Homo sapiens: one gene and its partners. The main gene of each other region encodes a partner of the protein of the gene in region 3 in a complex. Each region holds a gene or a part of one and is shown on either strand. Other genes may lie near its edges. The genes, in order: NTSR1, GRM3 and ARRB1. A codon is read from its position in the direction of its gene.

Region 1 (9,813 bases), on a different chromosome or scaffold from region 3:
AGATGGGGAAACCGAGGCTCAGAAATTATGGCCCAAGGTCCAGGAGCCCCAGAGAAGGGTCTGAGGCTGCCCTGTCTGGCTCTGAGTCCAGGTCCTCGTTCAGAGCCCAGCCTGAGGGGCCTTAGCATTTGCTAGACTCTGAGCCCACTCCTGAGCAGGGGTAGGGGCTGCACTGACCTCTGGACATCCCTGGCTGGCAGCAAAGCTCTTCCGCCCAGAGCAGACTATGTCATGGGGGCTCTGTGGGGGAGGAAGGCCCCTCTGTGCTGGCCCTGTTTCCCTGGGGTTGGTGGCCCTTGGGCACTGGGAGGGCTGCCTGGCTGATGACCAGGCTTGTGGGGGCAAAGTTTGGCAGGAAGTGCAGCGAATAGGCCTGACTCCCCTGGGCCCTGTTCTTGGTGAGCCGAAGGGTCCTGTGGTTGGAGAGGGATTTTGTGGGGTTCAAGGAACCCGTCAACTCAACAGCCAGATCCAAGCGACTGCAGATACTGTAGCATTCGACTCTCATTTCTCAGACGGGGAAACTGAGTCCAGAGAAGGCAAAGTGGCTGAACACAGCCCAAGACCAGGTGTCCGGGTCCTGGGTCGACATGGCCGGTGCAGGCAGCCAGCCCAGAGCCCATTTCCCTGGGGCAAAGGCTGCTCTGAGACAGGGAAATCCCTTGAAGAAAAGGCTGACTTTTGCTTCCTGTGGCTCCCAGCTCCTGGCTGGTCCCGGCCAGCTTCTCCTGGGACTGTCTTCTCTTAGGCTTAGGCGACCTTCTTAAGCCAGGGGCCTGGCTAGTCATGTGCTCTGTGGAGCCTGGATCCTAGAGACCAAGGAGGCGCCAGCTTTTTCAACTGCTTGGAGGCCGGGGCCAGGGCTGCCGCCGCCAGAAGGTGACAAATGAGTCTGTGCCTCAGCCCAGGGCTGCCGGCCAGCGGTGCCTGGACACACCGCTCCTTCTCACCTGAAGCCTGAGTTCCTGGGACCTGGCATCTTACTCAGAGACCAGGCACCATCGCCCCTGTCCCACATTCCCCTTCTCAAGGCCCCACCCTGAAGCCAGCTCTGGGCCTGGCTCCAGACCTCAGCCTGCACAGCCACAAGCAAAGCACACGGAATGCGCACCCCATCCTGGCCACGGCCACTCGGGCAGGTGCTGGAGACCAGGCCCCTGATCCGGCGTCCCTTCTGCCGAGCCCGAGAGGCCACAGCTGAAGATCTTGAGGCTGAGGCCTGAGCCCCCTCCCATGTGGTGTCCTGGCAGAGCCCCTGGGCCTTGGCCTGGGTGAGGATGGGAGGGAGGAGGGGAGGCTGGGGTCTGGGCCATTCCAGGCCAGCCCATTTTTGTCCTTTTTGGGCTTGTGGTCCCCTCTGGGGGCTGCAGCTGCCTGCGGCGAGGGTGGTGGGAGGGACTCCCCACGGCGATGGGCCCCCAGCTTGCCAGGCCTGAAGGGGCGAGTCAGGGAGCTTTCTTGGAGCTGCCTGGGGGAGGGGGGCATGGGTCTGCATGGCAGGGTCTGCACGTGAGGCCCAAAGCCACGGAGCCTGCGGGACTGGGGCTGGACTCCCCGAGCTAGACAGAGGGGGTGCAGGCCTCAGAGATGTGGACATGGGAACAGCAGCCGGGCCGCCGGAGGCCCGGCCCCACCCAGCACCTTTCATTTCCTTCTCTGGAACCATCCATTAGTCTGAGAACAAAGAAAACTGCCTTTTGCCGCACACTAATTTCTCCTTGTTAGAGGCCCTTTTCCTATCTGGGAGAGGAGCGCTCTCTTGTTCTGGCTTTCAAAGAGGAGATGGGGGAGGGGTGGGGAGGAGTTGGGGACAGGCCCGGGAGACACTAATGAGAAACATGGGTTAGGGGGTGGGAGGGGGGGGTCCCAGGCCTCAGACTCCAGTGCAGGCTGGCCTCTGCCTGACCCCCATCAAGGCTCCCGGGTGGGGGCTGCTCTGTCTGTCGGGGGCAAGGACCCATGGCCAGGCTCCTCCTGGACACGTTCCGGGGCGCACAGCCTAGTACAGCGTCTCGCGGGTGGCATTGCTGGAGAGGGTGTGGTTGCTGGACACGCTGTCGGCCTTCCTCGAGAAGGCTGGCCTCTTCCTCCTGCGCCGCCACACCGGGCAGAGGCAGGCCAGTGTGGCCAGGAAGATGTGGCGGAAGTTGGCAGAGACGAGGTTGTACAGGATGGGGTTGATGGTGGAGCTGACGTAGAAGAGTGCGTTGGTCACCATGTAGAAGTAGTGGTAGAAGTCATAGAGGAACCTGCGGGGAGAGAGAGGCGCTCAGATCCCAGAGAGAACTCTTGAGGGCCCCAAGGCAGGGTGACAGCCGGGGCCACAGCGGCTGAGGGACGTGGTGGCTCAGACGCTAATTAAAACACCCCTTGAGAATGGTTGTTTGGGGACATTTCATAACAAGCTCCAGGGTCTGGCTTCTCCTGAGCAGCTGCAAGTTCTCGTCGTGCTCCCGCCCAGCCTGGGCTGCTGCTGCTTTTTTTTTTTTTTTGAGACGGAGTCTCGCTCTGTCTCCCAGGCTGGAGTACAGTGGCGCGATCTCGGCTCACTGCAAGCTCCACCTCCCGGGTTCACACCATTCTCCTGCCTCAGCCTCCCGAGTAGCTGGGACTACAGGGACCCCCCCACCACGCCCGGCTAATTTTTTGTATTTTTGGTAGAGACGGGGTTTCACCGTGTTAGCCAGGATGGTCTCGATCTCCTGACCTCGTGATCCACCCACCTCAGCCTCCCAAAGTGCTGGGATTACAGGCGTGAGCCACCGTGTCCCACCCAGCCTGGGCTTCTTTAGGTGGAGCGTGGGCTCTGCTTGTCCATCCCTGCCTCTCCTTGCAGCTGCCTGCATTGCCCTTCGCAGCTCTGTGCATCCAAGGGTCCAGGGCTTGGCTGGTCCCGGCCTAACCAAACAGCCAGGGCAGTAACCCCCTCCACACCTCCCCAGCAGCCACACACCTTGCCCTCAGCTTGTTGCCTCCCCCCACAGTGATCTCACTCCCTCACCAGGCAGCTCAATTACTACCAGTCAGCCCTGAGTTTCAGAAGCTTTTGCAGGGGCCACACTCTGTTCCCCGTGCCTTCTCCTCCTCATTGGTCGTAGGTGCGCCCTCCCTGGTGGTTGTCACTGGAAGGAACCTTTTATTCTGGGATCTGGCAGCCCCACTGCACAGAAAAGGGTTCACAAGTGGGCCCCAAGCTGCCATCTCAGGATGGCCAGCTGGCAAGGCTGGCCTCTGGCTGGTGCCTGGGGCCTTGGATTTTGGGAAGGCTCTGCCATTTTTGGGTGAGAAGGGCTCCCTGCCCCTGAACTGTTGGTGCAAACAGTAGGGGTTTTGCCAGGCAGTGGGTGCCCCTGTGATCGGCCCCCATATCGTCCTGTGAGGCTCCTCTGGGAGGGGGCCCTGGAAGCTGCATCTGGTCTTCCGCTGACCCCACTCCATGTGTCTTTTCCCTTTGCTGACTTTGCTGTATAAGCAAAGCTTTGTCAGTATTGGTGCTCTTGCTGCGATAAGTCACAGCCCTGAGTATAACTCCAGGCTGAGCCCTGTGGGTCCAACCTGGGTGGCCTTGGGGCTCTGACAGCTGCCATATGAGGAGGTGACACCCCCACCATGTCCCCAGCAGAGCCAGGGATGTCTCTCTTTCACCTTCGGGAAACTGCCTGGGCCATCTCTCTTAGGACCAACTTTCTTTCTCTGCACCAGTCTGGCCTGAATAGCCCCTGCCTTGAACCTGTCCCTCCATGGCCTTCTCCCGGCCCCAGTCACAGCACAACCCTGCCCAGGGGGTCGCCGGGGGACTCACCACACCCCTGCCCTGAGTGGATCCCCTCAGCAGTGCCTGCCACACCCACCATCTGTTTTGGGAGCACTTACTTGTCCAGCACCCAACTTCCTGGTTCCCGGTACTCACGGAGTCCACTGCTCATCCGAGATGTAGCAGAACATGAGGCGCCGCACGTGGTAGGGCAGCCAGCAGACCACAAAGGCGATGACCACTGCACCTGAGGCACAGAGACGTGGGCTCAGAGACCCACTGCACCTGAGGCACAGAGGCGTGGGCTCAGAGACCCACTGCACCTGAGGCACACAGATGTGGGCTCAGAGACCCACTGCACCTGAGGCACAGAGACGTGGGCTCAGAGACCCACTGCACCTGAGGCACAGAGACATGGGCTCAGAGACCCACTGCACCTGAGGCACAGAGACGTGGGCTCAGAGACAGGACATGGGCTCAGAGACCCACTGCACCTGAGGCACAGAGACGTGGGCTCAGAGACCCACTGCACCTGAGGCACAGAGGCGTGGGCTCAGAGACCCACTGCACCTGAGGCACAGAGGCGTGGGCTCAGTGGGGGAGACATGGGCTCAGAGACCAGACACAAGCTCAGAGAGGGAGAGACGTGGGCTTGGGGAGGGAGCATAAGCTCAGAGACAGGACACAGGCTCAGAGACAGGACACAGGCTCAGAGAGGGAGAGACATGGGCTGAGGGAGGTAGACACTGGCTCAGAGACATGGGCTTAGAGACACAGAGATATGGCCTCAGAGAAGGAGACACGTGGTCTGAGGGAGATGCAGGGAGACATCCCATGTTCATGGATTGGAAGATTTAATATTGTTAAGGTGTCAGTACTACCCAAAGCACTCTACAGATTCAATGCAATCCGTATCAAATTTCAAGAATGCTTTTGGCAGAAATAGAAAAATCTGTGCTAAAATTCATATGAAATCTCAAAGGATCCCGGACAGCCAAAACAATCTTGTAAGAAAATAAAGTTGGAGGTCTTACACTTCTTGATTTCAAAACTTACTACAAAGTTACAGTGTGGTGCTGGCATAAAGATAGACACGTAGACCAAGGGAATAGACTAGAAATCTCAGAAACGAACCCTTACCTTTATGGTCAAGTGATCTTCACCAAGACCATTCAGTGGGGAAAGGACAGTCTATTCAACAAAGGGTGTTAGGAAAACGGGACATCCACTTGTATGAAGGTGGATCCTCCCCTCACACCATATACAAAAATGGACTTGAAGTGGATTAAAGACCTGAACATAAGAACTAAAACCATAAAACTCCTAGGAGAAAACATAATTACTTTACAACATTGATTTTGGCAATGATTTCTTGGGTATGACACCAAAAGCACAGGCCACAAAAGAAAAAAGTAGATAAATTGAACAACATAAACACTGAATTTCTGTGTATCAAAGGATGCCATCAGGAGAGTGGAAGTCAGCTCACAAAAAAGGAGAAAATATTTGCAAATCACATCTGATAATGAGTTAACCTTGAGAGTATAACTCCTAAAACTCAACATGAAAACAAACAATCCAATTCACAAATGGGCAAAGGACTCAGACATTTCTCCAAAGAAGATACAAATGGTCAACAAGCACATGAAAGATGTTATTAATCATTAATCTTAAATCACTGGAGAAATGCAAATCAAAACCACAACGAGATGCCACCTCAAATCTATTAGGATGGCTACTATTAAAACAACAGGCACACACTGGGACCAGGACACACCTTGGATGTTGGCAAGCCAGCCGTCCTGAGCTGGGGCTGGTCCTCAGGGTTCCGATAGGATGGGCGTTGCCCTGCTGTGGGCTTCGCCAGCCCTGAGAGCTCCGTGTCCAAAGCCCTGGCTGGTTCCCATGAGCAGGGAAGGCTGAGCCCAGAGCCAGGCTCTCTTAGGGTAATGTGCTTGGCTATGGGCCTCTCCTGTGACTGGCCACACCCTCAAACAAGCCCTGAAAATGGGCCAGCACCAGGGAGGAGCTCAAGCCAAATGCTTCAGGCAAACCAAACTGAAGACCTGGGTCTCAGGCATGAAAGGGCTTCATTCTCTCCAGTTCCCATCACACTCTCCAAGCCCTGTGTTGTTGGCAGCGTCTGCCCTGCCCCTGCCCCGCCTTCTTGCCAAGCACCTCCCACCACAGGGCCTTTGCTCCAGCCATCCCCTCGCCTGCAGCTCTGTTGCCCAGATGGGCTCCTGGTCCTTGGGACTTGCAGGATGCCACCTGCTCTGAGAGCCCCTCCCAGCTGCCAGATGTAGTCAGGGGTGGTGGTGGTGGTATTTTTTTCTTCATGCTCATCACTGGCTGAAGGTGCCTGGTGCCTGTGTTTGTGTCCTTGGTGGAGCCCCTGTTCCCCCAGAGTGCAGGGATGCCCCTGCCTCTGCTGCCTCCATGCCTGTGAGCAAGAATAGGCGAGACCCAGGGTGGGCACTCAGCCAACTGCTGAGCAAATGAATAAGTGAGCACGTGAGCAAGTGGACAGATGGACAGAGAGATGGATAGATGGAGGGAGGGAGGAATGGAACAAGGGAGGGAAGGAGGGATGGAAGGAGGGATGGATGGATGGAATGAGGGATGGAGGGAGGGAGGGATGATGGGTGGAGGGAGGGAGGATGGATGGAGGGAGGGAGGGATGGATGGAGGGAGGGAGGATGGCTGAAGGGAGGGATGGAGGGAGGGAGGGAGAGATGATGGCTGGAGGGAGGGAGGATGGCTGGAGGGAGGGAGGGAGGGAGGGATGGAATGAGGGATGGAGGGAGAGAGGGATGATGGAGGGAGGGAGGATGGATGGAGGGAGGGAGGATGGATGAAGGCAGGGATGGAGGGAGGGAGGGAGGGATGGAATGAGGGATGGAGGGAGGGAGGGATGATGGAGGGAGGGAGGATGGATGGAGGGAGGGATGGACGGAGGGAGGGAGAATGCATGGAGGGAGGGAGTGATGGACGGAGGGAGGATGGATGGAGGGAGGGATGGAGGGAGGGAGGATGGATGGAGGGAGGGAGGGATGGAGGGAGGATGGATGGATGGATGGAGGGATGGATGGAGGGATGATGGATGGAATGATGGATGGAGGGAGGGAGGGTGGATGGAGGGATGAAGGGAGGAAGGGAGAGAGGGATGGATGGATGGAGGGAGGGAGGAAGGAAGGGAGGGAGAGGTAGAGGAATGAATGGAGGGAAGGAGGGAGAGAGGGATGGATGGAGGGAGAGGTAGAGGAGTGAATGGAGGGAAGGAGGGAGAGAAGGATGGATGGATGGAGGGAGGGATGAAGGGAGGAGGGAGGGGTGGAGGGATAGAAGGAGGAAGGGATGGATGGATGGAGGGAAGGAAGGATGGATGGAGGGAGGGAGGGAAGGATGGATGGATGGAGGGAGGGAAGGATAGATGGAAGGATGGAGGGAGGGATGGAGTGCAGAATGGCACTCACCCCTCGGGGGAGCTGGCACCCTTGGGTCTTGGCCTGACAGCTCCATCCCTATGTCTTTAAACCTTGCCCAGGCTTGGGGTGGTTCAGCGCTCGCTGCCTTTGCTAGCCCTGGCCTGCCTCCCGCCCCTGGAGGGCCCAGAGGTTACGTACGTAGGACGCGCACGCCGTGCCGCAGGGCCTGGACCCTGCCAGGCTCGATGGCCATGCTGAATGTGCTGTGCTCGCCCCCGACCGTGCACACTTGGCCCTGCTCGGCCGCCTGGCGTACCATGACGGTCAGCTTGTTGGCGATGATGGTGTTCAGGACCGAGATGACCACCATGGGGAATATGAAGGACATGAAGGTGTTGACCTGCAGGAGAGGAAGGGCGAGGCTGTCAGAGCCAGCAGCGGGACTCATGCACCCTCAGCTGGGATGCCTGCCGTGCTGATTGGGGTGTCAGGCCTGCTCAGTGTGAGGTGCTCAGTCAACACAAGTTCAGGAGGTCCGGCCCTATCCCGGCTGCCCGGAAGACATGGCCACCCCTGGCTGCTGTTGTAAGCTGGCCCTCAGCCTGCCCCCGACCCTGCCTCTGACTGGGAAGAAGTTTGCAGACTCCCCTACTTTCATGAGTCCCTCCCGAGGGTCCCGCCTGTACACAGCAAGGAACACAACCACTGGGGTGTCCCAGCTGTGGCAAAGGCCCTAGGCTCTAGGTTCCCAGGTCTGGACATGTTGTGTGCATGGCTGAGGCCCACAAGCACGTGGCTGCCCCACCCCAAGGCCCGTCCTGTGGGAGAGTCAAGCCCTGGCCTTGTAGCTGTGTGCAGACAGTTCTCCTAGGTCCTGACAGCTCACACTAATAGAGGCCCCTTCCTCCCTCCCACCCCAGCTACCTCTCAGAGCATTGAAAGGTATAGGGCCCCTGTTATCAGCACCTGGAGCCCCCACTCCCCACCTCTAGCTTCCACATCAACCCACAAGGCTGGGTCATCATAGCTACCCTGCACCTGATCCGAGTCCTGGACAGGGTAGAGGTCCTGCCCAAAGACTCCAGCGCAAGGGGGGCTGTGCCTGGATTTGAGCCTGGCCTGAGCTGAGTCCCGCTCCTTCTGCGACTCCTGGCTGAGACGTGACTCTGTAGGCACTGGCAGGGTGGCTGTGACTTCCCCAGATGGGCAGTGGCCTAGCCTCCTCCTCAACCAGAGCTGCTGCTCAGAACAGGAAGGGGACATGTCTGCGGACTGGCAGCAGCAGAACCAGCCAGGACGGCCATGGCCCGGCTTCCAATGGAGAAACCGGCACCCCTCCCTGGGGCAGTGGAATAACAGCCATCAATGGCTTTAAAATCTTCCTTGGCCTTCGGTTCTTTGTAAGATGCTCTTCTCTGCAAGCCAGATCTTGGCGTCTTTGGCTGCCACACTTGCGGGTTCGATCCTGTGCCGGGGACGGAGGCTGCCCCCTCTCTGCCAAGCTGCCCGGGATCCTCATGCTGAATTTCTGATTCCAAGAAGCTTTTGGGTGTCTTGGAGAAGCGGCCTGTACTAGCTCTGTGGCTGGTGGCTGTGATTGCGGTAGAAAGTCCAGGGGTATCTGCCGTGGGATTCCCTGGGCTGGGCTGCAGGGGCCACCTCCCTCCCAACCTCCTGCCACAAGGGAGGGCAGAGCCACATGGCCTCAACAGTCCAAGTCAGGATGGTCCCGGTGAGGACAATCCTCGCCGTGTCTCGCTAATGAAGGCGGCGGTGGCCATGGGACAGGGCAGCCACTGAGAGGTGCTGGGGTCGTGGGAATGTCGGCAGGTTTTCTCCCTGGCCCCCTCTGGGCACCGGCTGAGGCACCTCTGGAGGTCCTTCCTGCTCCCATCGAAGCTCCCGGCTCCACTCAGAAGCACTCAGAGGCCTTCAGGAAGGAGGCGGCCTGAGTTTACCCTCACATTCCATTTGAGCAGAGTTCTGCTAACAGATCAGAGGACATGCATGGAGAGGGGGCACTCAAACCCCCGGGAGGCAGCATCCTGCACCTGCCAGCCCAGCGCCCCTTGCTCGTGCCACCTGTGTGGGCTCCTGAGAGCCACCACCACCGCTGCTGACCCTGGCTGGGTGGCGGGTCTGTTCTGCCCTCCCCTGCTTGGGCGTCCGGATCTGAGGCCGTCCCGCGTCCCTCCTGTTCTCCTGCTCTGGCCGAAGTCCACCTTCTGCAGGACAACAAGGTGCTGGTGAGACTGGGGGCAGGTAAAAACTCCCTCTTCCCACTCCGGCTGCTGGGAGCGGGGACAGGGGAGGCCAGGCCCAGCCTCAGGAGATAAACCCATTCCCTGTGAGTCACCGCAGCCCGGGGATAGTTTAAACAGCACCAATGTATCCAACACAGATTTTAAATGTCAAAACATTTAAAATACCAACCTCACCAACACGGCTGGCTGCAAAAATAGCTACCTCTGGGGGCTGGTGGGTTGTAGGGTCTGGCCCCGGCCCCCTGGCTGCCCCCGTTGGAGGATCCTGCCGTTTCCAGAGGGAGGGAACAGAGTCTGCCGCAGGGCCACGTGTGGGGACAGAGGCGGGGCCTTGCAGAGGAAGTCTGGCCCTCCCCCGCCTCCCCCA
Region 2 (9,813 bases), on a different chromosome or scaffold from region 3:
TTCATGTTGAGGATGACAGATTGGAAAGATACACCAGGGACCTGATTGTAAAATGCTTAATGGCCACGCTGGGAAGTTACATTTAAGTGATATTTATATTTAATGCTTTTAACACCTGGAAAAACCAGTTATTCATCAAGTTTAATCTGGTGGCAATACTTCCTTTTCCAGCTTCTCTCACTTTTGTACATCCCTCATTCTATTTTCTTCACACTGTATTTGTTCTCTTGTTTATTGTCTATTTAGTGTAAGCTGAATATAAAAAAAATTTCTACATTATTGTTCATGCTATAATATCTCTAGAACAGTGACTGAACACACAGTAGGCACTCATTAAATTTCTGATGAATAAGTAATTGTATAAGGAGAGAGAGAACGAAGGAGATAAATGGTTAAAGATTGAGAGGACAGTGATGATAACCTGGGCTAAGGTTTTGTCAGTGGTAGGAGAATAAAGAAGTTGCCATATCATTTAGGAAGGAATCAACAGAGGACTAAACAGAAGAAAAATGTCATGGGCAGTTCCACAATTTTGAATGATTGTATGGAGAAATAATCATGTTTCTCTTAGAATCAGAAAATAAGTTGCTAGTTGGGGGAGGCAGTGGGCTTTTGGCTTTAGATACGTAGAGACTGCTGTGTGAGTGGGACAGTCCAGTAGAAGTGACATCATCAGGTAGAAGTACTGTAACCATCAGAACGGTCAAGAAAGCCAGGCTCTGCTGAGACACGGTGTAACTTTCAACAGTTTAACAGTTTTGTCTCTGAGATTCCTGAGTCTTAAAAAATTCAAACCATTAAAATATTTGGGAGAGTGGGGGTGTGCTCTGTTTTTTATTGCTTTTCTCTTCATGAAGTCAGCTACTAAGTGTAGCATTCCAGTGAAGGCAAAGAGGGAGCACAAAACCCCTGGGAGGTAAAGCTGGTGGCCCAGGCTGAGCCTCCCCCTCCCTGCTGCCAGTCCCTCACTTCCTGTTCGGCATTTTTCCCATGTGGCTCTGAACGCTGCTTAGGAAACTATCTTTGGCAGTATTTGTGAGGATTGCCGGCTTTAGCTAAGCAACCATTCACTTGAACGAAGTGGACGCTGAGTGAAGAATGTGTAAGTTGCCAAATGAGGTCCTTCCCCTGCCCCCACGCTGCAGATCTAGAGGGCAGTGGGGAGAGTTGTGACAGAAGTTTTCCCACATCCCCTAGCTCATAAGGGCATAACTATAAAGACAATTTGAATTTTAAGAGTGCAGTTATTCAAATCGAGGAGAGTTTCTAAGAAATAATCTTTTCATTAATGATAATCTTCAAACACTAGTAACTTATCTTTCTAATATATTAATATTAATGATAAAATATAGGATAAAATATTAAAAGTGAGAAGGTTTTCTAATAAGAATATCAGTAACTTCTTCAAATACCAGTAACTTCTCTTTCTAATATATTAATATTAATATAATGATAAAATACAGGATAAAAGATTAAAAATGAGGAAGTCTCCGAATAAGAATATCCAAAAGATGTGTATTATTATATGTGTTTGCATATCTCATGGGAACTTACTATAGGTAACAGGAAAACTTCCTTTACAACGAAGATAATAGGACATTTCTAGAAAATCTATTCATACAACTTATAGAAACTGTGCCTTATTAGTTGAGCTTAATTAGTACTCAGGCTTGTAGAATGTACTTTATACAACTGGTTAATCCAATTAGAATGAACTTGCTGTGGAAAGTAATTTGGTAAAAGAAATTCACTGGATATTCTGTGTATGACCATCATTCTACATGTAATTGTTATGGACCGAATATTTGTGTTGCTCCAAAATTCACATGCTGAAGCCCTAGCTCCCGATGTGATTGCGTTTACTAACAGGGCCTTTGGGAGATGATCAGGTTTACAAAAGGCCATCAGAGTTTGGCCCTCATGGTGGAATTCATGTATTTATAAGAGGAGGAGAGCCCAGAGCACCTCCTCTTCCTCCCAGCTATGGGAGCACAGAGTAAAAAAGTGGCTTGGGAAGAGGACTCTCACCAGGAACTGAATCTGCTATAATCTTAATCATGGACTTCGCAACATCTGCAACTGTGAAAAATAAATGTTTGTTGTTTAAGCTACCTGGTCTATGGTATTTCATTATAGCAGTCTGAGCAGACTAAGACAACAATGTTTCTCAAATCCCAAGAATAATCAGAAGTTTACTTACTATGCAGATTCCAAAACTTCAATCTATATGACATTCGTTTCAATTAGCCTGGGATGCATGTGTCCCAGCATTCTTCATTTTAAGTAAACTTCAAAGTGATTCTAATGCAGGCTCTCTGGGCAATAATTTCACAGACTATTTACAGCAGAGGTAAATAGATGATTTTTGTTGTTGTTGTTCAATACATGGGGGAGTATAAAGGAAAGGGAGAGGTTAACTATTCTTCGTTTTTCAATTTTCTTACCCTTTCCTACTTCAAATGTTCCAGCATTTTCCATATGAGAAGTGGACCTAATACTATCGGCTACTGGCCGGGCACCATGGTTCATGCTTGTAACCCCAGCACTTTTCGAGGCCAAGGTGGGAGGATCATGAGGTCAGGAGTTCAAGACCAGCCTAGCAAACACGGTGAAACCCCATCTCTACTAAAAATACAAAAATTAGTTGGGCGTGGTGGCGGGCGGCTGTAATCCCAGCTACTTGGGAGGCTGAGGCAGGAAAATCGCTTGAATCCGGGAGGCGGAAGTTGCAGTGAGCCGAGATTGCGTCACTGCACTCCAGCCTGGGCAACAGAGCTAGAATCCATCTCAAAAAAAGAACAACAACAACAAAACAAAAACAAAAAACAAACAAAAATTATCTTCCTTCCTGTCTTGTTATATCACATAGCAACAAACACAAATTTAGGACCTTAGAAGAAGAAAAAAAAAGTAGAGGGTGAGCACTCTAACACCTCAATCTTTTTCCTACCAGGGCTTCATTTGTTCAACAACTAAGAGAAGGCTTGTTTCCTTTCAAATTACTGCATTATGAGTGTTTAGGAAACCATAGCCAAGGAAGGGCTTGTCTTAGACAAGGTCGTGAAGTACGTAAAAATTCAATAAATTAATTGTTCATTCTACCTACTCCCTACTAAACTGGTAAAGTTACCTTTTCTGAAAAATGAGCCTATAAATTCAGAATGTGTTGGAGGGTTAGTACGTTATGTGGTTCTAGAACTATATGTTCTTTAGTACTTCTTGGATGAAATACTTCAGTTTAAAATTTGGAAAATTTTATGAACCAAGGAAGGTAGTGAAAAATATATTTTGGGTGTTGGGGGAAGTGGGACTTTTGGCATTCCTCAAAACATTTTTTTCAAGGGGACGTCTTGAACAAAATCTATGGAAGAGATTTGTTAGACATCTAAGTTCATGTCTTGTCTACTAATCAATTTTGAAGTTAGGTATGGTCTGGCTACCAGTGTAGTAGTGACCAATATAGTATGGACTGGTCACCAGTCCATATATGTGGATTCCACAGAAATCACTGGGATTAATGCATAAGCATGTAGAGGGTCTCTGCTTTTTCAGGAAAAACAAGATGTTCCAAAGTAGAAAGTTAATTATACTCTCTAGATATCCTTTTCTCCTTGAGGCAGATATAAATTCCAACGTTTTTGACCTTGTAGTGCCATCTCTCAGATTGGCATGTATTCTGACATATTTTGTAAAAGCAGCTTCCATTATGTTGTATTCACCAAGACATGGTTCATTGAAACTGTTAAGCAAATATTACTAATAATCTATCTGCTATCTATTATTAACAATCAAAAGAAACAGCCTCCACCAGATGGAGGGGCGATCTGTGATATCTGTTCCTTTTTTATGTCCATTAATTACTCTAGCACATATCACAAATCAGAGAAAGACCCTCAAGTAAAGATTTGTTTCAGCCCTTTGGTTGTGTGAAAAGAAGTGTGAAAAGAAGTATAAGCTCATGCAATTAAGACAGCAGGTTTCCTGTCTGTGGGAAGGCACTGAGGTCAGAGAATAATGAGATGTGGGTTTTCCTGGAGCAGCACTACCAACAGTCTTTGGAATCTCCAGCAGGTCACTTTGCATCTCCTATTCTTAGTGTGTTTAAAATTCATAATCCCTGATCCCTTCCAGTTTCATGCTGTTGTATATATTATGGATAAATGTCCCGATGTGTAAAATGCTGAGAGTTTTCTAACATAAAGATGAACCATTACTACTTCAGCAGGGTAAAGAAATTTGAAAATTTTACTATACTACAAAACTTTTTTACCAGCTTGTTTTCCTGGTGGGAAGTAGGTAGGTTGTAAGAGGAGAGAAACATCAGCATTTTAGCCTCAGCAGAAATCCTACTCACCTCTATCCTGGCTTTTTGTGAGACTATATTCTTGCCACTGTACTAAGTTTTACAGATGATAATGGTCATTGAAATCAGACTCCAAGAAATATATTTTCCTCACACTTTCAGACCTGGTGTTTATTTCTCAGCTTGTTCATTTATAATCTTCATAGACTTTTCTATTTTAGAATTTCATCCTTAGTCCTAGTCAATTATAAATAATGTTTTAGCTTACTTCTTCCATTTGCATGTCTCTGCCTCTCAGAAGGGACAGTGTCTGGAGTGGAGAAAGATCTTGAGCCTGGGGAAGTCTATTCTAGACTCCCTTTCATTGATTATTGTTTGCCCTCCTTACCAAAGCATGTCCCTCTACTTGGAGCTCAGAAAACACTTGTTGAATGCAATGAAGCCTGGTAAAATAAATAAATTAATTAAAATAAATAAATAAATTAAAAAATTGTGAGGCAATATTGGTAGTAAAGAAAATAGGTCTTAGAATAAGAAAGTAGGTTTTGAATTCCAGTTGCAGCCTTGTTAACTACCTGAACTTGGGCAAGTTACTTTATCTTGCTGGGCCTCCATCTCCTCTTCTGTATAAAATGAGGATCCCAGTACCTACTTCACAGGTACTGTATAGTTCTTGTATAGCAGAGTTCTTCACACAGGGAAGTTGGTTAATAATTATCACCTATTATTTTGACTTATTATTAGTTTTGTCACCTCACAGCATACAACACTGTCTCCACAAGGCATCAGAATATATACACACATTTAAAATCCTAAATATGAATGCATCTGTTAAGGAACAGACTTTTTCATTTGGTTGATAATTCTGGTAACATTTTCTCTACTCTCAAATTTCAAGTTTGATTTTTGCAGCACTTTCAACTTTACACATGTTTGTGAAACTTTGTGTGTGAACATTTTTTTGTGTTCCCAATGCATGTCCTATATTTTGTTTTGGTCAAAATAGGTACTTAATAAATATTTATTGACTAATTGTTTCCCTATTAGCTACCTTTTCTTTCTGATGATAGACTCTTTCTTAGAGGAATCTTCTCAAATTTTATACTCCTAATATTCCCATGCTACATATATAGGTTGTAAGTTTTTTTCAAACTATGTATCTAGCATCATGGTTTTGATTTTTTTTAATCTGTTTAGATATCTATACCCTTTCAACTGAATTTACTCAAATATGTGTGTGTGTAGTTATACAGTCAATGATAGTGAAGTAGTGAAGTAAATTCTGATAAGAAATTAAAGATCAGAGTTACTTTGGGCTTTTTGTGGAGGTGCCTTCTCTATATATGGCTTTATTTTCAAACTGGTGCCTTAATCTATGCCTACGTAGATTATATCAGAATGTTTTCCAAGTTTATTTCTCTCCTTAAAGTACAGTGTACAATTTCCAGTTCAATAAAAAGATTGTTCAATATGATGAAGAAATACTTACTCTGTGTAGGCACAGATTCTTTGGATGCCTTGCTGTTCCAGAGAGAAGCTATAGGTATATTAATGGCCTACATTTTCTATACCAAGAAAATTGATTTTCCTTTTGTTTCTAAGGAAAATCATTTGGAGGGTGCTCACCACTATGTGATGAATAGCACTATAAAAATACTTTGGGACCTCAGGAGGGAGAGTACTTGTTTAAAAATTATTTCGTGCAGTCTAATTTTATTTGTTTAAAAATAAGTTTTGGAAAGATGTCTCCTCCTTGATTTCTTAACCTAATCCACGTGAGTGTTTCCATGTACCGTCGAATGCTTAACAAGCAGTAAGATAGCACTAAATGGTGTTTTTAGATGCTGATTCACCTCCCTCTGGTTTTATATTTTCTTGACTTGCTAAGTGTAACCTAGGAACTTATTTCCTGATTTATATCATTTACTCCTCTACTGTCTAGCAGAACTTGTATTTCAATGCCTGGAACTTGGAGAAACAATTGAGTGGGATGGTGAGTCTACCAAGATATTTGCTTAAGAATCTTAAAGAAGCCTACACACGGATGTCTTGGAACAAGATTTCAAGTGAACAAAGTGAAAACCTGTTTTTTTATGTTTTTTTTTTCAGGCTTTTCTATTTTTAAAGTAACCTTCACATATGGTACCTCCATATATATCGAAATACATTCCACATTGATATATGCATGATGTAAGCTTACTTTTCATAATGCAGCACGGTGAATAATTTGGCCTTAATTCCACTGGGTTTTTTAGATTGTTTCAGTATAAAGGGGCTACTGCCAATCCTAACAGAATTACTATGTTTTGTTAACATACACATCTAAACTATATACACTATTACATTCCTAGCACATTCTATTAATTATGGACATCACTTTCATTTCAATAGTGGAATTTACATGACAACAGCTTCTGGGGCTCAGAGGAGCATCAGACCAGCATGTCACAAAATTCCCTTGTAGTGTGGGCGTTGACAGGGTTCTGTTGCAAACAAATTTGCAATGAAAATGTCTCATAATGTGCATCCACATAGAACATTCCTCAGAAAGTACCACCTTAATATTCACATAGGTCATTAACATCAGAAAAGGTAATTTCTTAATTCTTACATTAGTAAATTAAATTATTAGGAACATATAGTTATACACATATATAAGTGTGCAAAAAATGTCTTAAACATTTAGCAAAGATGTCTGGACATAGAATTGCCATCTTTGTATTCTCTCCTGTAACTGTGTGAAGCTTTTGTATTTTATAAGTCCTAGAGAAATGTTGGATGAAGAATCTGAATCAGACAAGAGGATGAACTAGTCCAGAAGGTTTATAATAGGAATTAAGTAACAAGATAAAATATAATCAGGAGAAAATTAAGCTGAATATCACAACAAAGTTCTTAATAGGGAGAACCATTAGACTGAAATAGTCTTTCAAAGACTCTGGAAGAAGTCATTACGTGATCCATTTAAAGTCAGACTGGACTGAAGTACTCCAAAATACAGTAGGCTATGGGGACCAAGCCTACATTAGAAGTAGAAGGAGGGGTATGAGCTAATAGTTTTTGCCGTCTCAGTGATTACTATGATGATACTCATTTTATGTGTTCAGACTTGGTAGATAATCTTCTATCATTTTATGCTCCTCCTTGGGAGCAATTTCAACAAATTCATCTAATGCAGTATTGGATCCATTTAGTGGAGTCTCAAAAGATGTGAGAATGCACAATAAACTCAGTTTAAAATAGCAAAGTGAGACAACTGTGAGTAAACACGTACTCCTTTTTTTGAGAATTACTCCTGGAGAAAACAAGTCTCACGCTGGAACTTTGGCCACATTCCAGTGTGCGTAACTGAATCCTGCCCTCCTTGTTTTACAATAGTGATTAGGTATTCATTTTCATTTCTTTTGTTTAGTAGAATATTGGGATGATGTTTAGTGCAGGAAAACAATTGGAAAATTCACCCCCAAGCCAATGTGCTACATTTTGGCAGGAGGTAGCTAGTATCCTGGAAAAACCTCATGCTTCATTTTGCGACTGATCACTATTAGAAGAATGGACAAGAAAGACAACAGTTTTATTTGGCAAAAAGATAGTTCGACATGAAATAAAAGTGAGGAAAATGTACCCAGGGAAGTTGTAAAATGTTATTGCTGAGAATCTTTCAAAATAAGAACATCTTCAATTGTGTGATTCCAGCTAATCACCTGTCATAGAGAAGTGAAGCAGTGAGCTTTTGACAATTATCCCCATTCTTTTATTCAATACAAATATTAATTTCAACTTAAACATAAAGCTCAATCAATTTCGTTATATTTGCATTTGTTCAACTTACCAATTTTAATTACAGTGATATAAAATTAAAGATGAGCTCATCATTTTGATATGTGTAGTTGTGGGTTAAATCATCGGATTTATACTCCTTTTCACATGTATACCACAACTTTTTAAAAAGCCCATTGTGCAAAAATAAGTAGGTCACAGAGTATATTTTAATTATAAGATTTTTTTGTGTGTGTGGCTTTCCACACATTTTCTTGTTACTGATCATATATTCCTGAAGTTTGAAAAATACCATTCAATTTAAATAAATAGAAAGACATCTGTTTCAAGCTCCAAAGTGTGGCCTATTCATTGTACTGGCATAATTTTCTATGATTTAGGTTTCACATTTCACTGGTAAGGGCCTAACTCATAAAACCACAGTTTTATACCTAGATATATAGTATCTAGGGGCAGGAGGGGTTTCAATGCTAAAAGGTATTGTTGCCATATTCTTTTTCATCTAATAAAGGTAGATATTCTGGAATTTCATTGTTTTATTTGTTAAGGTATAGGTTTCAAGACTTCCTTTCCTCATTTTCCATCCTGAGCTCCTGTGTTACTCTGAACATAAGATAGCCTTTGGGCATGTATATTCAAAATATCTATGTACTCCTGCTGGGTGATCAAAACCCAATAAGATTGACAGCTAAAGTCTACAGGTGTAAGAAATCTTTGTAAATATAAAACACTACCCATTGTGAAAGGAAAAGTATTACAATAATTTCTGGCATACAATAGCTTCCAAATATATTCAAATTCTATTGGGCTGATTTTAGAAACAAGGTACGTAGGAATATAGAATCATATTTATTCATTAGAGTGTCCTAAGCATCTTTGTTAGGAACTGTTATCCATAGTTTAGCATAGTGGCAATCTAGATTACTTTAGTAATGCCTATATTGAATATACTTCTGCAAACAATTAGAATTCAGAGAGGAATCTTAAAGTGTGTGATCAGATAAACCAAAGCAGACTCCACCCCCTAAACTCCCTCCCACCCCCCCCCACCCCCCCACCCCCACCCCCCCGCCCACCACAAAGAAACATACTGTAGCTGTGCTGGACAGTTCTAAGAAATTCAAGCAAAGAAACTCTAAGGAACTATTGTTGGTACTTAACTCACACCTACCTCAACTCACATTAACCTCAACTTTGAATATTCCAATATGTACCTACATATAGACCCCAAACATATCTATTACTATTCAAATAGTAGAAATATTTTTATAAGCAAATTAGTTGAGTCCTTAACCAAAGATCTTTAGAGGTGTATAGTTTTGTTTTTCAAAATTTACAATATCTAAAATACTTAAAGTGGGAGAATCCTTCCTTAATATATTTACCTAAAAGTGTTGTACCTTAGAGAATTGTCCACCTTTGATAACCCAAGGAATAACTAGAAAGAAATTTAAATGAAATCCTTAAGAAACAAGCTTATTGGATATATCACCTAGTCTATTTTTGGATCGCAAATCTCCCGCCCTCTCTGAGTTATCTCACTGTCAGATAAGAAAATGGAACAGGGTCGATGAAAAGATATGCTCCCTGTCTGGCTTTTCGATTTTTCACTCAAGCCAAAAGGAGCAAAGGGCAGTGAGTTAAGGCTCCTTTCCAACCCTGCTTGCGGGAGGGCAAACCTCTGGCCGCCTCCGGCTTCGGAGCTTATCTGGGCTGCATGGACCAGGTCT
Region 3 (10,550 bases):
CCTCCTGAAGTGCTGGGATTACAAGCTTGAGCCACCATGCCCAGCCAAATCCTTGTTTTTATATTTTGTCCAACATTTATATTGTTATCTGGAGGAGGGTGGAGGATAATACTCCACCATTAACAGAGTCAGAATCATTTTCTCCCTGTTTTAGAAAGCTAGCAACACTAAGGCATCCTGGCAAAGGCCTGTCAGCAAGGACATCTATCCCTTCATGTTGCCTCCCATTCTGAGCTATTCCTATAACTCACCCAGTTGCATTTCATAGTGAAGTGGATACTTGAATTGTTTTTGGCTGCTCAGCCTCTAAACTCTATTCTCATGTTTGGGGAATTCTCTATCCCATGAGTCTTACAGTAAGTCAAAGCCCACCTCCCAGAATGGAAATCTCAAATGCCATCTACACAGTTTCTCAGCATCCTTGAAGCAAGGGTGGGACCACATAACCTAGACTCAGCCAATCAAATGCATGGGGGACTTTGACTCAAAGATGTAGGGCCAACAAAGAGTCCATCATGGTGACAGAGGCAGCAGTGGCCATATCTAGTTTCTGGGGGCAGCAATGGGGTTGGGTTTGGTGCTGGAGAAAGTGGAGATGTGAACTGTGGTGTCCATTGTTCAGCAGTGGCAGCTACCTGAATATATGGCCAATAATTTTTTTGTATGTTTAAGTCTGCCAGAATTGGTTTTTGTTGATTACAAATGAGAATTTTGATGCTGGGCACGTTGGCTCACGCCTGTAATCCCAGGACTTTGGGAGGCCGAGGCGGGCAGACTACGAGGTCAGGAGATCAAGACCATCCTGGCTAACACGGTGAAACCCCGTCTCTACTAAAAATAAGAATACCAAAAATTAGCTGGGCGTGGTGGTGGGTGCCTATAGTCCCAGCTATTCCGGAGGCTGAGGCAGGAGAATGGCGTGAACCCGGGAGGCAGAGGTTGCAGTGAGCCGAGATCGCACCACTGCACTCCAGCCTGGGCAACAGAGCGAGGCTCCATCTCAAAAAAAAAAAAAAAAAAAGATAACATTGAAATGTCCACCTAGTGATAAATACCAACAATCCCATCTTAGGAAAATGGGGACTGGAGATCTTGTTAGACAAACCTAAAACAGGCCCTGAGCCATACTGGGGAGATGCCTTGTCTGAGCCTGCTTCCTCAGGATACGGCCCCATCTTCCTTTCCAATCCTTCCCCACTACTCTGCTTTCGCCACAGATCCATCTGAATTCCCCCAAGCATTGTGCCTTTTCCTTCCTTCCTGGCTTTGCAGCTGTTGTGTGTCCTCTCTCTGGAATGCAGTTATCATTCCTCCCTCTGAATTGCTGACACCATGTCCTAATTGGTCTTCCTGTCTGCATCCCTTTTGGTGCATGTCCAATCCATTCTTCACACATCCACCAGAGCATCTTCTCCAAATGCATGTCTGATCATGTCACCTCTCTGCACAGCCTCTTCATTGATACTTGGATGAAGAACAAATTCCTTACATGACCCTCCAGGCCCAGCATGGTCTCGTTCCTGGTACCCCTCCAACTTTATTGGGAGACACTTAGGAGGTAGTCCGGGACTAGGTAGCTAAGGAGTGAGGTGGACAAGAAAGGAGTCAAGGATCACACTCAGATTTCTGGTTGGGCAGAGGTAGGGAAGCTCCTTATTAGTTTCTCAATTTCTAACATCTTGAAGGAGCACATCAGTAAGGCTTCAGTCAGGCTCAAGTCCTTTTTTTTTTGAGATGGAGTCTCACTCCGTCGCCTCAGCTGGAGAGCAGTGGCATGATCTCGGCTCACTGCAACTTCCATCTCCCAGGTTCAAGCGATTCTCCTGCCTCAGCCTCCTGAGTACCTGGGACTACAGGCGCGTGCCACCACACTTGGCTAATTTTTGTATTTTTAGTAGAGACAGGGTGTTGGCCAGGCTGGTCTTGAACTCCTGATCTCAGGTGATCCACCCACCTCAGCTTCCCAAATTGCTGGGATTACAGGCGTGAGCCACCACACCCAGCTCAAGTCCTTTGTTGAACAAGGAGCTGAAAACTCATCCACCCACTCACTTACACTTCAGTCTGACTTTAGTCTGACACTCAGCTACCTGCCCAGCTACGCAGAAGCTTTGGGTTTGAGTCCTTGCTCTACCTTTCATTTGCTATGCCCTTGGCTTAAGCAGTTTCCCTTGTAAAGTTTTGTGTTCTCATCTAAAAAGCAGACATAATACTTCCTTTCTCTCTCTCTATCTCTCCTTTTCTTTCTTTTCTTTTTCTTGCTTTCTTTCTTTTTTTTTTTTCTTGCTTTCTTTCTTCTTCTTCTTTTTTTTTTTTATTAAAGAGACAGGGGTCTCTGCACAGGCTGGAGTGCAGTGGTATAATCATAGCTCATGGCAGCCTCAAACTCTTGGTCTAAAGGTATCCTCCTTCCTTGGTCTCCCGAGTAGTTAAGACTACAGGCACACACCACCAAACCCAGCTAGTTTTTTGTTTTTTTATTTTTTGTAGAGATCTCACTATGTTGCCCAGGCTGGTCTCAAACTCCTGGGCTCTAGCAATCCTCCTGCCTCAGCCTCCCAAAGTGCTGGGATTACAGGCATGAGCCACCACACCCAGAACCACCCTTTCTCATTTTTTAATAAGAAATGATTGTGAGTGGTAAATTTCAGGCATGTGACTCGCCCTAGTTGGAACACAGTTGGAGATGACCATCTCCTATGAGCCTCAGCTGCAGAAGCCATTTGCCTTTGAGCAAAAATCACTCTGTTGCTCAGGTGGAGGATGTGACACAAATGGGTTGACGGGAAGAATGGAGGCCACCAGTCCTCTCGACCGTGACTTCCCTTGGAGAATTACATGGAGAGTTGGCACAGACAGACCCTGACCCAAACCTCTGAGTCATCCTGGATCCTCCATTATTCACAGCCAGTCCCTCAGTAGGTGCTGGCAGCTCCCCTTTCAAATATATCCTGAACCCGGCCAGGCGTGGTGGCTCACGCCCGTAATCCCAGCACTCTGGGAGGCCGAGGCGGGTGGATCACTTGAGGTGAAATCCCGTGTCTCTACTAAAAATACAAAATTAGCTGGGCAGGATGGCATGCGCCTGTAGTCACAGCTACCTTAGGAAGCTGAGGCACTAGAATCGCCTGAACCTGGAAGGCAGAGTTTGCAGTGAGCTGAGATCGTGCCACCGCACTCCAGCCTGGGCAACAGAGTAAGACTCTGTCTCAAAAAAAAAAAAAAATCTGCTTCCCAAATATATCCTGAACCCCATTACTTCCTTCATTTCTGTGGCCACCTGTCTTGCCCAAAACCCCACCCTGACGACTGCAATAATGGGGTGCCTTGCCTCTGCTGTTGTCCAGTACCAAGTCATCTCTATCCAACAGTTAGAGTGACCTTTAAAAATGTAAAGCAGATACTGGTGCTCAGCTGCTTAAACCTCCCACTGGCTCCCCAAACTCCTCATCCTCAACTACAAGTTCTGTGTGACCCCAACCCTGCTGCCTCACCTGTACCACCCCTTGCCTGTTCACCAACACCAGGAGCACTGTCCTTGCTCCTGCGCCTCTACAGTTGCTGCTCCTTCTGCCTGGGCAGCATCTTCCCTGACTGTCCCCTCACATCGCTGATTCTTTTCCGCAGGTTTCAGCCCAAAGCCCACCTCCTCGGAGGGCCTAGGGCCTTTTTCTAAGTCTACTTGTCCCTATCACCCTGTTTCATTATTGCTTTATTTTCTTCATAAAACTTATTACTGGCTGAGATTATATTGTGGATATACAAAGAGTTCTCCTCAACATTATCACTTTTACATTTTATTAATTTTTTTTTTTTTTGAGATGGAGTCTGGCTCTGTCACCCAGGCTGGAGTGCAGTGGCGTGATCTCGGCTCACTGCAATCTCCACTTCCCAGGTTCAAGTGATTCTCCTGCCTCAGTCTCCCAAGTTGCCAGGACTACAGGCGCCCGCCACCATGCCTGGCTAATTTTTTTTTTTTTTTTTTTTTTGTATTTTTAGGAGAGACAGGGTTTCACCATGTTAGCCAGGCTGGTCTTGAACGCCTGACCTCAAGTGATCTACCCGCCTTGGCCTCCCAAAGTGTTAGGATTACAGGCATGAGCCACTATGCCCGGCCATTTTATTAATACATAAATATGTTTTTCAAAAATTAGCTGGGCGTGGTGGTGGGCGCCTGTAGTCCCAGCTACTCGGGAGGCTGAGGCAGGAGAACGGCCCGAACCCAGGAGGCAGAGCTTGCAGTGAGCCGAGATTGCGCCACTGCACTCCAGCCTGGGTGACAGAGCAAGACTCCGTCTCAAAAAAAAAAAAAAAAAAAAAAATATATATATATATATATATATATATATGTTTTTCATAGAGCCTGGCAGGTAAAGCAAAATTGTCCTCTTGACTCTTCTTCTGCCATCGTTGCTCCCTCACTGGAATTTAAAGTAAATTAAATCGACCGGGAGCAGTGGCTCACGCCTGTAATCCCAGCACTTTGGGAGGCCAAGGTGGGTGGATCACCTAAGGTCAGGAGTTCGAGACCAGCCTGGCCAACATGGTGAATCCCTATCTCTACAAAAATACAAAAATTAGCTGGGCATGATGGCAGTGGCTGTAATTCCAGCTACTGGGGAGGCTGAGGTGGCAGAATTTCTTGAACCCAGGAGGCAGAGGTTGCAGTGAGCCAAGATCATTCCATTGTACTCCAGCCTGGGTGGCAGAGCAAGACTTCGTCTCAAAAATAAATAAAATAAATAAATATATTTAGATGTTTTGGGCATCAGCATGGAGAGATCCATTGGAGATCTTATGGTTTGGTCAAACCTGTTTTACAGGTGGGGAAACTGATGTGGAGAGTGGCAGGACCTGGCTTCACCATCCTGGTTAGGGATCTCCTGTCATCAAAGAAGATTCTAGTCTGCTCCTTTCCAGATCTCTGAGCCCTGCAGAAACAACAGGTGGCTTCCTCTTCTTCCTCTGTAGAGGGTGAAACCCAGAGGCCAAGACTGGGAGGAGGGTTCTGGGCTTTCATCCATACTCTCTAGCTCCTAACATTGCCCAGAGGTGGGCCACCCTGCCTACCCATCAGCCTCCCCCTGCCCCTCTGCCAAATCTGGACATAATTATAGTAATTATACTGCATATAAACAGTATAGGTAACTGCTTCTGAGCATAATTACAGGAGATGTTTACATACTCACAACAGCATCAGAGTAAATGATAGCTTACTTTCCCCTTAATACTTAGATATCAGGGACCTATCCGGGATAATTAGCCAAATCTCAGTAGTGAGGGTGTGGTAAAGACCTTACCGTTTCCCACTACCTGCAAAGCAGGAAGGCACCTCAGACAAAGCAGGGTCCCAGCCAAGATTTCACAGGACATCAAGAAGCCTGCAGAGAAGTGGGCTAACATCTACTGGGCACCTACTGTATGCAGGCGCTCAGGGGAGGCCAGCAAACACAAGCGAGTTCTTTCAACCTATTAACAATTCTGCAGGCTGATATTAGTGTATCCTCACTTTACAGGTCCGGACATGGGTTCTCAGAAGCTTAGTGCACAGGGTCACCCACAGCGAGCCATGGAGCTGGGCATGGGCGCTTTCCACGGTGCTACCCGGTCACAGCAGCGGGCCAGCTCTGCCCTCTTCCTTTATCGCCTCTTCTCACTTCTCACAGCTTCCTCTTCCTGGGCGGCCTCCTGCAGCCCCTGCTGGCCGCGGGTCTCCGCTCAGTTCCCCAGTGTCAAGGCCGTCTACTGCCCCCTCCGCCCCTTCTTCCTGTCCCTGTTGTGTGGCTGGGTGTTATCTCTCCAGTAGAAGGGGGTGGGGTGGGTGGAATGGGGAAGGGTGGAGCACAGGGCGAAGGCCTTGCCAGGCATCCCGGGGTCTCCAGCTAAGCGAGGGGCCGCAGGGAGCGCGGCCTCGGGGTCGCCAGACCCTCGGCTTCCAACCACCCGCACACACAAAGGCTGCCCCGGCATGCGCGGGAGAGCGCGCTCGCACCCACGGCCGTGCGCACACACGCACAACTGCACAAAGACGTGCACACTCCTCCATCCACACCAATACACTCCCTAATAGGGCCCGCACACAGCCGTGCGCCCTCACATACACCACACCACCACCACCACCACCACACACACACACACACACTCTCACACGGACTCGCACGCGGGTGGACCCCCTCCCCCACCACAAACGCCGACCTTGGGGCCCTGACGCGTCCCGCCGCGCTGCCCTGCCTCGCTGGGCGGCGCGCGCACACGCAGACGCGCACACACACACACATACACACACGCACACACCCCGCGCGGTTCCACGCCCCTGGCCGCGGCCCGGGCGCTGCGCTGCTCGACGCGGCGGGCGGCGGGCGGGGACCGGGGGCGGGGGCGGCGGCGGCGGCCGGGAGAGCGGAGGAGGCGGAGCAGGGAGCCGGGAGCGGGCTGGCCCGCGCTCCTCCTGCTGGCTGGGGATTTTCCAGCCTGGGCGCTGACGCCGCGGACCTCCCTGCGACCGTCGCGGACCATGGGCGACAAAGGGACCCGGTGAGTGCAGGGCGGCCGCCCGGCGGGGGGCGCGTGGGGGCGACCTCGGCGAGGACACGGGCGGGGGCTCCGATTGCGTCCTGGTTCTGCGTTCGCGGCCACCGCGGGATCTAGTACCAGCTCTCCTCCACCCGAGGTCTCCTGTGTGGTCTCCCCGGCAGGGCCGTGGGCGGGGGGACCCAAAGGGCGAGGGCCGGGCCGCCCCATGTGGGCCGCAGCTCCTGGCCCGGACACACAGCTCGCTGACACCCAGCATTGGCCGGCAGCCGCAGAGACGCACGGGGGCAGGTTGACACACAATACACGCACGGGCACACTAACCCGTGGCACAGGCATGCTGGCGCACACACTGGCAACCGCTAGCACACGCTCATCACACGCAGTGGCACGCCGTCATACACGCCTCGGTCAACACATTCTTGCTGACAGCCTTGTTGGCATGCACAGCTCACAATCCAACACACACCAATTCTAGCACACCCTCGTGCTGGCACACACGTGTGGGCATACACTGATACGCACACTGTCACCTGCACTCGCTGTAGCAAACACTCTTGCTGGCACACACATCACCCTCACTGGCACACACACTTGTGCTGGCATGTCTCACCAACACAGCGGAGCGCAAGGCCACACCAACACTGACCCCCACAGACACAATCAGACTGATGCCCTCAAAGACTGGCACCCCACAGGCACGAGCTGCTAGCCCAAGGCCCGCTGACACACACGCTTCAGGCCCCACATGGCCAGAAGTGGAAACACACACATCACACAGGGTAGAGCGCCCCCCGCCACCCCCAGCCTGGGGAAAACAGATCGCATTTCATCCAAATAGATCCCATCCATCTACTCTGTTCCCTTTCCCTCTGACCTCCTGAGGAGTGGCTGGCCAGGGGCTGTTTTGAACCTAGGGCTGGGAGAACCCCTCCCGTTCTCCTAGAACCTGTCCTGAAATACTCAGAAACAGTCTCTGCCTCTGAAAGGGGAAACTGGGACAAAAGGAGGAGGGGGCTGGAGCAGGACAGCCCCTGGGGGCAGCCCTTCAGACAGGACCAGCGCTGGTCAGGGGCTCAGCGTTGCCACCCTATTTTCCCCGTTGCCCTCCCCACCCCCTAAGTGGGCACAGCAGCCTCTCCCTGGGCTCCCCCTCTTTCTCATTGTTTTCTGTCTTTCTCTTCTATTCTTGTGTCCGACTTCTGCCTCCTTCCTTTCCTCCCCTCCCCTCTCCTCGTTTCCATTTATTATTAAGCTCTTGCTGTATACTAGGCGTAGTGTGGGGGATCAAAGATGCGCAAGGCCCACTCCTCCCCTGAAGGAGCTAACAGACTAGAGAGACACCACCCCGGTGGGCACCACCTTTCAGGGCCACTGACAAAGCTATTTCTCACCCACTGCCATCTAAGACTCTCTCTCCACAGTGTGAGAAAGGGCTTGCAGAGATTATTTCCATTTTCTAGAGGAGGAAACAGGCTCAGAGGCAACTCAGGCTCTTAATGTTTAGAAACTACTTTCCAGCCATCCTCCTGACAGCTCTTCCAGGAGGTTAATTTTCCTCTTCCTGTTTTCTAGCAGAGGAACCAGAGGGCTAGAGGCCATGTGATTTGCCTAAGGTCAAAAGGGGCCAGAGGCAGGGCGGAGGCTGGAGTCCACTTGGTCATGTCTCTGTGGATGGCCCTAGGGCACTGCCAGGCCCCTCATGGGCCAGGGAGGGGAGCCCTGCTCTGTGCTGGAGGCCCAGGCTTTGGGGGGGACGGCAGAAGATCATGCTGTGTCTGCATGAACCTTGATGGCTAGTCCCCATTGCAGCTGGCTGGCCAGCACTGTGACCTAGGCCTCTGTCCTCAGTAGGAAGGTATGTGACTCCTTCCCCAGCCACATCCATCTGCCCTGAAATTAAGACCCTCTTGACCCATGAGGTCAGGCTTTTCTTCCTGCAGGGCATAGCAGGGAGTCGGAGCCATTCTCCACTCCATTGTCCTTCCTAGGCTGCCTTGTGATCGGAGTGACTCAGCCTCTCTTGGGTCTCTCTGTACCTCTCTGTGACTTGGGGGATAAGTGTCATTGTTGTCCTGCTGACATGATTGTCAGGAAGATGTGGACACCATGGGCTTCCAGGCACCTGTTGGAGACCCTGTCTCTGAGGCCAAGGTATTTTCCATGGCTCCCCCTGCCCTGCCTCAAACTCACTGGTGGACCTTTGGGACATTGGGCAATTGCCTTTACTTTTCCGGACGTTAGTTTCCCATCTGTAAACTGGAGCTATCAATACTTACATTTTAGGGCTTCCCTTGTACTTACTGACTTCACTGGGCAGGGGAAGAGGCACTGCCTGAAGCCTGGAGCCAAGGCCCGGCTAAATCCACCTGATGGTGGCCCAGACCTCCCCTTCAGACTCTCCTGCAGCCCCATGAGGCCTTTCTGTCCCTTTCCGGACAGTTGGCTAAGTAATTTGGAAAAGAAGGGCAAAATCAGTAATGGGCTGTACCTTGTCTTTTTCCGTAAGGCATGAGTACCTATGACTTAGAAGAGGAATCTGCAGATATCAAAAACTGAACATCAGGAATCATCGCAACCATCCCTCCATCTGGAATTGCACCCCCATGTGAAAGTGACAATGAAAATTTATCACAAACTGTCATTGCCCTCTAGGAACTCCCAGGGTCAAGGGGGAAAGAGGTGTTAAATACCTGGACAGGGCTGTGCGCGGTGGTTCACGCCTGTAATCCTAGAACTTTGGAAGGCTGAGATGGGCAGATTGCTTGAGCTCAGGAGTTCGAGACCAGTCTGGGCAACATACCATCTCTACAAAAAACACAAAAATTAGCTGAGTGTGGTGGCACATGCCTATAGTCCTAACTACTCTGGAGGCTGAAGTGGGAGGATCACTTGAGCCCTGGAGGTTAAGGCTGCAGTGAGCCATGATCATGCCACTGCACTCCAGCCTGGATGAGAGAGTGAGACCCTGTCTGAAAAAATAAAAAAAAAAAATACCTGGACAGGACTAATCACAGGGCAGGAGTATGATGGTTGCTGCAAGGTGCTCTGGGAACAATCATATATTCATTCAACAAATGTTGATGAGTGCCTTCTGAGTGCCCAGGGCCTGGGGATTCAGCAAGGAAGGAGTCTACTCTGTCCTCCAGGGATTTAGAGCAGAGCAGGTGGTCATAACGCAGGATGACATGTGTTGTGGGAGGCTTAAGGAGAAGTCCCCAACCCAGGCCCAGGCAGGGAGCATGGTACAGGAAGCTCTCCTGGAAAGGAGGTGGCGTTGGAACTACTGAGCTTCATCTGGAAGGATGAATAGGCCAAGGGGGCGGGATTGGGAATGATATTTCTGGCCAAGGGTGCAGAATGTGCAGTGGCTTGGAGGCAGGAAGCAAGGCGTGCAGCCTGGGGCCTGGGCTGGGGATGATAGTGAGCCTTAAGAGGTAAACACAGACCGGTCACCAGCAGTCTGGGAATGTCAGGCTAAGGAGAGAGCATTTTCTCCTGAAGTGGATGGTGATTCAGAGAAGAGTGTGAGGCAGCAGAGGGCTGGAAGCAGATGTTTTCATTTCAGAGAGATGTCTTTGGCAGCGCCAAGTAGGGTGGATGGGAAGAGCAGGCCTAGAAGCAGGAAGACCAGTGAGGAGGCTGGGGAGAAACCTGAGAACTAAGGCTGTGAGCTCTGAACTTAGGCTGCAGAGAGGATAGAGTTGAGAAATATGAATGTGAATAGGAGGTGGAGTCCATCAACCTTGCTGGTCGATTGGACCTTTGCCAGGTATCTGGTGTGTGTTAGAATTACACGCATAATCTCAATGAATTCAACTGTAATCTAGTAGTGTAGTCATTGTTGTCCCCATTTTGCAGATGAGGAAACAGACTAGAAGAGATTAAGTATTTGTTCACTGCCATTCAGCCAGCAAGCATAAGAACCCAGGCCTATTGACCCACAAAGCCCTCTCTGCTACTCGACGCTTTTGCCCAAGAGAGGGGGCCTTGTCTGGCTCACAGTTGGCCTCCCCAGC

The links.
Region 1: the proteins of ARRB1 (region 3) and NTSR1 are in contact, whole or in part, in a cryo-EM structure (PDB 6UP7), measured with the Homo sapiens proteins. Residues at the interface, in NP_004032.2 of Homo sapiens: Tyr63, Arg65, Asp67, Leu68, Val70, Leu71, Gly72, Leu73, Thr74, Phe75, Arg76, Lys77, Asn245, Thr246, Ala247, Gln248, Tyr249, Lys250, Lys284, Arg285, Gly286; in NP_002522.2 of Homo sapiens: Ser93, Leu94, Gln95, Ser96, Leu97, Gln98, Thr100, Val101, Arg166, Ile170, Pro173, Lys177, Phe286 (codon at 7,441), Ser287 (codon at 7,438), Met288 (codon at 7,435), Ala289 (codon at 7,432), Ile290 (codon at 7,429), Ala297 (codon at 7,408), Leu298 (codon at 7,405), Gly301 (codon at 7,396), Ser368 (codon at 2,155), Asn370 (codon at 2,149).
Region 2: the proteins of ARRB1 (region 3) and GRM3 are in contact, whole or in part, in a cryo-EM structure (PDB 9II2), measured with the Homo sapiens proteins. Residues at the interface, in NP_004032.2 of Homo sapiens: Gly5 (codon at 6,527), Thr6 (codon at 6,530), Arg7, Val8, Phe9, Lys10, Lys11, Ala12, Ser13, Pro14, Tyr21, Arg25, Arg65, Glu66, Asp67, Leu71, Gly72, Leu73, Thr74, Phe75, Arg76, Lys77, Arg103, Leu104, Lys107, Pro133, Arg236, Phe244, Asn245, Thr246; in NP_000831.2 of Homo sapiens: Pro605, Lys608, Ala609, Ile669, Phe670, Asp671, Gly672, Val673, Lys674, Asn675, Ala677, Gln678, Arg679, Lys681, Phe682, Ser684, Cys761, Pro762, Glu763, Phe765, Val834, Val835, Thr836, His837, Gln855, Ser856, Ser857, Ala858, Ser859, Thr860.

Annotation. Positions count from the first base shown.
Region 1 is NC_000020.11:62,752,454-62,762,266, reverse strand, and holds part of NTSR1 (neurotensin receptor type 1), read right to left. Parts: intron 7,583-9,813; coding exon 7,381-7,582; intron 4,002-7,380; coding exon 3,911-4,001; intron 2,250-3,910; coding exon 2,000-2,249; 3' UTR 1-1,999. UniProt on the Homo sapiens protein: G-protein coupled receptor for the tridecapeptide neurotensin (NTS). Signaling is effected via G proteins that activate a phosphatidylinositol-calcium second messenger system.
Region 2 is NC_000007.14:86,645,325-86,655,137, reverse strand, and holds part of GRM3 (metabotropic glutamate receptor 3 isoform 1 precursor), read right to left. Parts: intron 1-9,813. UniProt on the Homo sapiens protein: G-protein coupled receptor for glutamate. Ligand binding causes a conformation change that triggers signaling via guanine nucleotide-binding proteins (G proteins) and modulates the activity of down-stream effectors.
Region 3 is NC_000011.10:75,347,572-75,358,121, reverse strand, and holds the start of ARRB1 (beta-arrestin-1), read left to right. Parts: upstream 1-6,460; 5' UTR 6,461-6,514; coding exon 6,515-6,534; intron 6,535-10,550. UniProt on the Homo sapiens protein: Functions in regulating agonist-mediated G-protein coupled receptor (GPCR) signaling by mediating both receptor desensitization and resensitization processes.